Homo sapiens: one gene and its partner. The protein of the gene in region 2 purifies or fractionates together with the protein of the main gene of each other region. This does not show direct contact. Each region holds a gene or a part of one and is shown on either strand. Other genes may lie near its edges.

The links. The genes of interacting proteins can lie anywhere in the genome.
Region 1: the proteins of BCAM (region 2) and TNPO3 purify together in Homo sapiens (affinity purification with mass spectrometry; 2 studies listed by BioGRID and IntAct, with this or other methods). This does not show direct contact.

What each region holds. Positions count from the first base shown.
Region 1 is NC_000007.14:128,971,612-128,975,880, forward strand, and holds part of TNPO3 (transportin-3), read right to left. Parts: coding exon 4,208-4,269; intron 4,097-4,207; exon of another isoform or gene 3,934-4,096; intron 3,352-3,933; coding exon 3,257-3,351; intron 972-3,256; coding exon 815-971; intron 1-814. UniProt on the Homo sapiens protein: Importin, which transports target proteins into the nucleus. Specifically mediates the nuclear import of splicing factor serine/arginine (SR) proteins, such as RBM4, SFRS1 and SFRS2, by recognizing phosphorylated SR domains.
Region 2 is NC_000019.10:44,814,808-44,819,847, forward strand, and holds part of BCAM (basal cell adhesion molecule isoform 1 precursor), read left to right. Parts: intron 1-3,714; coding exon 3,715-3,830; intron 3,831-3,933; coding exon 3,934-4,075; intron 4,076-4,248; coding exon 4,249-4,385; intron 4,386-4,538; coding exon 4,539-4,683; intron 4,684-4,774; coding exon 4,775-4,919; coding exon of another isoform or gene 4,920-4,923; exon of another isoform or gene 4,924-5,040. UniProt on the Homo sapiens protein: Transmembrane glycoprotein that functions as both a receptor and an adhesion molecule playing a crucial role in cell adhesion, motility, migration and invasion.

The DNA.
Region 1 (4,269 bases), on a different chromosome or scaffold from region 2:
TCTACAATTCTACTCCACATCTAATCAAACCTACCTTCGAAATTCCTGTGAAGCACTTTACTACTCCCACTGCTTAGTTGTCTACTAACAAACTTAGTACTATTCTGACTTGCTCTGATCTTGGCTTAGAGGCAGTATGACTATCTGCCTCTCTAATCCATCAAAATTCTACCTCTAATTCATGGCTTCATTTAAATCCCTCCCCTTCCATAAAGTTATTCCAACTCTTTTTGGTCTAGAGCTTTCCCTCGTCTGATCTCATACCAATCATGACTTTTATCACTCATCTGACAATCAAATACTGGAGGCCAAGGTGGGAGGATCACTTGAGGCCAGGAGTTCAAGACCAACCTGGGCAACATGGTGAAATGCCATCTCTACAAAAAATATAAAAACTAGCCAGGCATGGTGTTGAATGTCTGTAGTCCTGGCTACTCAGTAGCTGAGGATCCCTTGAGATTCACATCACTGTACTCCAGCCTAGGCGACAGAGCAAGACCCTGTTTCAAAAACAAATGAAAAACACCAAACACTGGCATCTTGTTGTTACTTAACTCTTTAAACTTGTTTCTCTCTTCAACTAGACACCAAATGATTTGGGAGCATGAACAGTTTTAGACTGCTTTATATAGCCTAAAGCACCCAGCACAAGTGTCTTAGTTGATATTTTGGCTAGTGAATGATCCACTATGATATATGTCTACCAATATAGATCAAGTAAGGAAATACTGGGATGCTGGTTTTCTCCTAAGGAATGACAAAGAGATAGGAGATAAAAGCTGTTAAGTAGAAATGGTATCATTTTTATACTTACATCATTGGCTACCCCTGTATGAATGAGGTCTCGTAGAAACCTCATGACACTACAATTGGCATCCCGGTGGTCCAGGGTAGTAGAGGCAATGGCCCACTGTAAGATAGGGATGACCACTTGGCTCCGCAGCAAGGTGACAGGGCTACGCTGAATAAACCTGGTGTGGAAAGTGAGACTAGGTATAAATGACAAGATTAGGCTATAAAAGCAGCCAGGGTAAAAGGGCAAAACTATGAAGACAGTAAAAAAGATCAGTGGTTGGTGGGGGGTTTCAGGGAAGAAGGGATGAATAGACAGAACATAGAGGATTTTTTTTGGCAGTGAAAGTATTCTGTATGATACTATAACAGTGGATACATGTCATTACACATTTGTCAAAACCCACAGAATGTACACCAAGAGTGAAGCCTAATGTAAACTATGGACTTTGGGTGATAATGATGTGTTCATATAGGGTCACTGTTTGTATTACTCTGGTGGGGGATGCTAATAGAGGGGAAGGCTGTGTGTGTTAGGAGGGAGGGGTATATGGGAGCAACTTTTCACTCAAATTTGCAGTGAACCTAAAGTTGCTCTTTAAAAAAAAAGGACCATATCTTAAGATTAGTATATTAAAAGACGTGTCACCACATCCTATTTCCAACTAAGATTTTATAAATCAAGAAAGACCAGTCAAAAGGACCTACAAGTAGAAACTCTCCTAGGTTAAAAAGTCCTAAAGATGCTAGAACAGCATTTCCCAAACTAAAGTTCACAGAATTCCAGTTCCCAGGATGTCAACAGGAATCCCTCAAAGAAAAGGTTGTGTGTTCAGGTAAGCTTGGGAAATGCTGCTGGATTTTGAAAGTAGTTTTGCTTGTTTATTTTTTCCTTTAAACTACTATCAGGTTTCTAAGTTCCTTTAATATACAGGGAGAATCTCTTCAGAAAAAGGTACAGTATACTCCAAACTTGTTTCATCATTTGTATAAAGAACATTTTTAGGGACTAGTTTTCCAAGGAATACATACCCTAAGAAAACAGAGGGTGTGCCGGGCGTGGTGGCTCAGGCCTGTAATCCCAGCACTTTGGGAGGCCGAGGAGGGTGGATCACGAGGTCAGGAGATCGAGACCATCCTGGCTAACACAGTGAAACCCCGTCTCTACTAAAAATACAAAAAATTAGCTGGGTGTGGTGGCGGGTGCCTGTAGTCCCAGCTACTCGGGAGGCTGAGGCAGGAGAATGGCGTGAACCCAGGAGGCAGAGCTTGCAGTGAGCCAAGATCACGCCACTGCACTCCAGCCTGGGCGACAGAGCGAGACTCCGTCTCAAAAAAAAAAAAAAAAAAAAAAAAAAAGAAAACAGAGGGTGACAGCCCATCCAACAATTCTATCAACTGAAAAAAAAAAAAAAAGAAAAGGAAAAAAAAAGGGTTTTTCTAACCTATCCAAAAACTAACAAAAAAAAAGGGTTCAATATTCAATCCTGCCAGGTACGGTGGCTCACGCCTGTAATCCCAGGACTTTGGGAGGCCAAGGTGGGCGGATCACCTGAGGCCAGGAGTTTGAGACCAGCCTGATCAACATGGCAAAACCCCGTCTCTACTAAAAATACAAAAATTAGCTGGGCATGGTGGTGGGCACCTGTAATCCCAACTACTCGGGAGGCTGAGGTAGGAGAATCACTTGAACCCAGGAGGCAGAGGTTGCAGTGAGCCGAGATCATGCCATTGCACTCCAGCCTGGGCAACAGAGTGAGAGTCCATCTCAAAAAAGAAAAAAGAAAAAAAATCAATCCTAAGATGAAACAATCAAGTCAACATTACTTTGCATTTGTAAATGATATAACAGTTGGGCTTTTGTTGTTTCGAAAATAATGATTTTTCTTTTTTTTTTTTTTTTAATGCTGATATGGTAACAGTTTTGGTTCAAATTCCTTAGTTAGGGACTAAGGAATTCAAGCAGAAGTTTGGCAATCATATTATCAGTGCTACTGATAAAGTAGGCTGTGAGTAGAGCTGAGAAATACAGTATGAGATAACTGCTAAGGCATCTTAAAATCCCAAACATTCTTTATTCCGAAACTGATTATATCTAAAGGATGCTAAGCTTCTCAAAGAGAAGGTTGAGGTGAAACATGAAATCGCAACAGCACGAACAGTTAAAACCTACAGAGGACTGTAGAGATGATCTAGTCAAGTGTTTTGCCAGGCACACTGCATTGTCTTGTGTGTGAGCCCTCCTTCCTGGCAGGAACTCAGCTCCTTTATCCCTTGCTTCCCGCAATACTCTGCGTCACTGCTGGGGATATATCAGCTTGCAATTTACCTTTGGGTTATGAATCATTAATCTACTTACTCCAGTGACTTCATTTTACAAGAATAAAACAACCAAGGGTCAGATGGCAAGACTAAGCAGTGATAGGATGAGCAATTAAGAAATGGGCTCTTCAGAAGGATTTACCTGGTGGCTAGCCGGAACAGGTCATCTACAGTGTCAGGGTGATTCTGGAGACCATTCTGCTGTTCTAGGAGCTGAAAGGTGGGGATGCACAGTGCCTAAAACAAAACAGTGATTTTAAAAGAAATGCTTTTTCAGAAATGCCACAGCATTCAGACTTGCCAAATATTTATTACAATAAGTACAAAAGGAACAAAGAAGAAAAGCACAGCTGGGAAAAGAAAAAGATTGTAATGAGAATCTGATCAGGAAAAGAAACACATAAATCCTTCCCAGTTGACATAAACAGTTTTCACCTATGAAGTCCACATTTAAGAAAGGGTTGAGAAAACAGATTTTAGCTGATAAAACTCAACAGATGTCATCTCAAAGTTTTAGAAATTTCTGAAAGCAAAGATTCTATTTAGGTATAGTCCACTAAGGGAGTGGAAGTTTTTATAATAATTATGAAATATCAATTTTAAATGAAAAGACATCTTGGGAAAAGAAACAACATTCTTCAACTCAATATTCCCCTCTGTGGCTGGAAGGGAGGGAAAAGCAGTATCTGAGGAGCTGTTTCCAATGCTATTATTAATTCTAAAACCCTCCCTGCTGCTAAGTAAACTAGTCAGTTGGCTGTTCCAGGCAAGAAGTTAAAAATACAATAATGCTTGAGCTTAGAGATTCATTTTTCTCACCTCCTCCCCCCTCCAAACACCCTATCTCTGGAAGAGCATAAACCAGGCAGTAACATGTAATAATCATTACACTCATGTGGTCAGTCTCTCATTCTCTCAAACAGGCCTGTTCAGAGAACAACTGGGAAGCTTCCACCTCCCTGTTATTAGGAAATCAACATGCCTGGGGGAAAACATAAAGAAGCAACAGAATTAAAGACATGGTAAAGAATACGCTGCTAGGCCTTCAGACCCTCTAGGCCTGATGCGTCTACACTCCTCATGGAAAAGATACCTGGAGCATGTCTAGCAGTCCCTGCCGACAGCCTTCTTCCATGCCATATTCATCCACAAGGA
Region 2 (5,040 bases):
TGCCTCTGCGCCCTCCTCCCTACAGCCCTGAAGTTGCTCTGTCATCCCAAACACTCTGCCTTCAACCCTTTCTCTGCATTTCTTGGGGGTTTTTTTGGTTGTTTTTTTTTTTTTTTTTTTCCCAGAGACAGGACCTGGCTACGTTGCCCAGGCTGGTCTCGAACTCCTCATGCGATCCTCCTGCCTTGCTCTCCCAAAGTGCTGGGATTACAGGAGTGAGCCACCGCATCTTGTCGAGAGCTCTTTCCATAGCACAGACCTGACCCTCCTCTGCTCAGAATCTGCCATGGCTCCCCAGTACCCTTGGGAGAAGCCCAGGTGTCTCACCATGGCCTTCAAGGTCCACCTGGCCAGTTCCACCATTAGCTAGCTGATCCTTCTCCCCAGTCAAGGCTATCTCCTCATCACCCCCCAGGCTCCTCTGGTTCCTACCTTCACTGCCCATCCTTCCTACCGTCTATTTCTCACCAATCCCTTGAATCCCAGGCTTCTAAGAATGATTTTCAGTTCATTCGCATCCAGGCCCTGGGGAAAGGCTGTATTCTCCCTTGGCACTTCTTACATATCCCTTCCTGGGGTAGACCCTGCGCCAGATGCTGGGGACACATCTGTGAACAAGACAGACCACCCCTGTTATTTCAGTAGGGGAGACAGATGGTAAATGCTAACTAAGCCCTTTCGTAACAGTAGTGTATCTACAGGTGATATCACCAGTGAGAGAGAGCAGGAGAGGGGATTATTTTAGGTGGCAGGTGTTGCAGTCTGCTTTCCTGAGAAGCAGATTCTGACTTGGATGTTTTCAGGCAAGAAGTTTATGGGAAGTACCCTGGGTTCCGCACCTCTTGGGTCTAGGGAGGTAAAGGAAGCAAGATTTGGCAAGGTGAGAAGTTGGACTGAAGTCTAAGGAAGGTCTCAGGCTGGGTGCAGTGGTTCATGCCTATAATCCCAGCACTTTGAGAGGCTGAGGCAGGAGGATTGTATGAGCCTAGGAGTTTGAGGCCAGCCTGGGCAACAGAGGGAGACCCCATTTGCACACACACACACACAAATTAAAAATTAGCCAGGCATAGTGGCACACACCTGTAGTCCCAGCTACTCGGAGGCCCAGGTGGGAGGATCCCTTGAGTCTGGAAGGTTGAAACTGCAGTGAGCCAAGATTGTGCCACTGCACTCCAGCCTGAGCGACAGAGAAAGACCCCGTCTCAGGAAAAATAAAAATAAAAAAGTAGGCCGGGCCCCGTGGCTCATGCCTGTAATCCCAACACTTTGGGAGGCCGAGGTGGGTGGATCACCTGAGGTCAGGAGTTAGAGACCAGCCTGGCCAACATAGTGAAACCCCCTCTGTACTAAAAGTTAGCCGGGTGTGGTGGCATGCACCTGTAATCCCAGCCACTCAGGAGCCTGAGGCAGGAGAATCGCTTGAACCCAGGAAGCGGAGATTGCAGTGAACTGAGATCGTGCCATTGCACTCCAGCCTGGGCAACAGAGTGAGACTCCATCTCAGAAACAAATAAAAGAAAGAAAGAGGGCCTCAGTCAGCCCCACGGGGTACTTGGAATCCAGGATGGCCCTTCACAGTTGTCCCCAGTTGGGGTGAGGGGGCTGGGCCTTAATAACCTCTACATCAACCAGTCCTCAGAGGTGTGCTGGCCTTAGGCAAGGGGCTCTCAGCAGCTGAGGCAGCTCCCAGAGAGGGGTGACAGCTGCAGGCTGACAGCTGTCATCCTTCTTAGCAGCTGGTGGAATAAGTCCTTCCGTGCTGTAGGAAAGATCTGGGTGTCCACAATAGGGGAGGTCAGGGAAGCCTCTGAGAAGAGACATTTAAGTGAGACTCAGAAAAGCAGACAGCAGCCAGGCACAGTGGCTCACACCTGTAATCCCAGCACTTTGGGAGGCCGAGGCAGGTGGATCACCTGAGGTCAGGAGTTCGAGACCAGCCTGGCCAACATGGTGAAACCCCATCTCTACTAAAAATATAAAAATTAGCCAGGCATGATGGCTGGTGCCTGTAATCCCAGCTACCCAGGAGACTGAGGCAGGAGAATCGCTTGATCCTGGGAGGCGGAGGTTGCAGTGAGCTGAGATCGTGCCACTGAACTCCAGCCTGGGTGACAGAGCAAGAGTCTGTCTCAAAGAAAAAAGAAATTGGCCGGGCACGGTGGCTCACACCTGTAATCCCAGCACTTTTGGGAGGCAGAGGCGGGCAGATCATGAGGTCAGGAGTTTGAGACCATCCTGGCTAACACGGTGAAATCCCGTCTCTACTAAAAATACAAAAAATTAGCTGGGCGTGGTGGCAGGTGCCTGTAGTCCCAGGTACTCGGGAGGCTGAGGCAGGAGAATGGCATGAACCCAGGAGGCAGAGCTTGCAGTGAGCTGAGATCCCGCCACTGCACTCTAGCCTGGGCGACAGAGCCAAACTCTCTCAAAAAAAAATAATAAGAAGAAGAAATGCAGAGAGCTACAAAAAGAGCACTGCAAGTAGAGTGAGCAAGTGCAAAGGCCCTGAGGCAGGCCCCAACTTGGTCTACTCAAGAAAAACAGCAAGAGAACGGGGTAGCTGGGAGCACAGGAGGAATGGGGAAGAGTGGGAGATGGTTCAAGAGGTGGGTGAGGGCCAGACCAGGCAGCATCTTTTAGGCACCCTCAAGAAGTTTGGCCTCGATGCCAAGGGTACTGGGGAGCCACTGCAGGGTTTTATGCAGAGGGGAGGGATGACCAGTGGGTGGTTGGTTTTTTTTGTTTTTTTTTTTTTGAGTCAGAGTCTCACTCTGTCACCCAGGCTGGAGCGCAGTGGCACAATCTCGGCTCACTGCAACCTCCACCTCCCAGGTTCAAGCGATTCTCCTGCCTCAGCCTCCCAAGTAGCTGGGACTATAGGCATGCACCACTATGCCCAGCTAGCTTTTGGATTTTTAGTAGAGATGGGGTTTCACCATGTGACCAGGGTGGTCTCGAACTCCTGACATCAGGTGATGCACCCGCCTCGGCCTCCCAAAGTGCTGGGGTTATAGGCATGAGCCACCGTGCCCGGCCTGACCAGTGGATGTTTTAAAGAGGTCCCTCTAGCTGCTCAGTGGAGGATGGACAAGAGGGAGGAGCAGGCTAGTGAAGAGGTGGTTGGGACAGTCAAACCTGGGGCCAGAGGTGGCAGGAAGCCAGAGGATTTGTCCTGGGAGCAGACCAGATAAAGACTTGCTGAGGCCAGGAGCAGGGGCTCACGCCTGTGATCCTAGCACTTTTGGGAGGTCAAGACAGGAGGATCACTTGAGGCCAGGAGTTTGAGACCCAGCCTGGCCAACATAGCAACACCTTGTCTCTATTCAAAAACAAAACTTTGCAGAAAAGATGTTTGGGGGTAACAGGGAGGTTACCCCACAGGTTGGGGTTTGAGCAAAAGGTTTGTGTGCTAAAGTCACAGAAGGGACACCTTCCACACCTAAGGTTATTCATTAACCTTGGGCTCAGATGTCAGCTCTGAAGAAAAGTAATTGACTTGGGCATGTCAATGTTGGGGTTAGACTGCTAGATTTTTGGTTGGAGAGCCTGGATGGGAGAATGGAGATTTCATGGAGATGGGGTAAACCAGGAGGATTACTTGCTGTTCTCTGCTTCCAACTGTCCATTCATGTTTGCACCCCCGACCGCCCCTGGAGAGCCCCTAATTGAGTGGGTGGCGGTCTGGGACGAGTGACAGACTGTCCCCCACTGCAGATCTGGACCCCCTGGAGCTCAGCGAGGGGAAGGTGCTTTCCTTACCTCTAAACAGCAGTGCAGTCGTGAACTGCTCCGTGCACGGCCTGCCCACCCCTGCCCTACGCTGGACCAAGGTGAGAGGGAGAGGAGCCCCCTCGGGCCCTGCACTCGCACCCTCCTCTCTCCCCTCACTCCTCGCCCTCTCACAGCGTCCTCCTCCTCCTCTGCCCTTCCCAGGACTCCACTCCCCTGGGCGATGGCCCCATGCTGTCGCTCAGTTCTATCACCTTCGATTCCAATGGCACCTACGTATGTGAGGCCTCCCTGCCCACAGTCCCGGTCCTCAGCCGCACCCAGAACTTCACGCTGCTGGTCCAAGGTTCAGGGGGCAGGGAGGGGGTGGGCTTGGATGGGGACAGTGTGGGGTGTGGGACCTGGACAAACAGGACGAGTTCCTGAGTCCCTGGCTGGGGACTCCATCTTCTGCTCGATGCCTCTCTTCTCTCTCTCTCTCCTCTCCCTTCACTTTCTTCCCATCCCCACCACCCACAGGCTCGCCAGAGCTAAAGACAGCGGAAATAGAGCCCAAGGCAGATGGCAGCTGGAGGGAAGGAGACGAAGTCACACTCATCTGCTCTGCCCGCGGCCATCCAGACCCCAAACTCAGCTGGAGCCAATTGGGGGGCAGCGTAAGGGACCTTCCTCTCCACCCTGAGCCCCCTCTCACTCATCCAAGTATCACACCCTCCTTTCCACTTCCTGGGAGACTGGACGTCGTTCACCTCTGCCCTTGACCCCACCCCTTGACCCCACCAGCCGGGGCCTGATCGGAGCCTCCATAGCCCGCAGAGCCAATCCCCGGACGGCAGGGTTGGGTGAGCAGCTCTCTGACCCTGAAAGTGACCAGCGCCCTGAGCCGCGATGGCATCTCCTGTGAAGCCTCCAACCCCCACGGGAACAAGCGCCATGTCTTCCACTTCGGCACCGGTGAGTGACTGAGGTGGTGGCAGAGGAGCCGGGTGTGGGGCAGACAGAGCCCACTGCCTGACCCACGCCTCTCTCCATCCTGTCCCTGCAGTGAGCCCCCAGACCTCCCAGGCTGGAGTGGCCGTCATGGCCGTGGCCGTCAGCGTGGGCCTCCTGCTCCTCGTCGTTGCTGTCTTCTACTGCGTGAGACGCAAAGGGGGCCCCTGCTGCCGCCAGCGGCGGGAGAAGGGGGCTCCGTGAGTGGCCTGCTATCTGCAATGACCACCATAGCTTAACCCCATCCCCACCCTCAACCCCAAGCTCAACCCATAACCTCAACCACATCTTATCCTCCACCCCACATCCCACCACATCCAC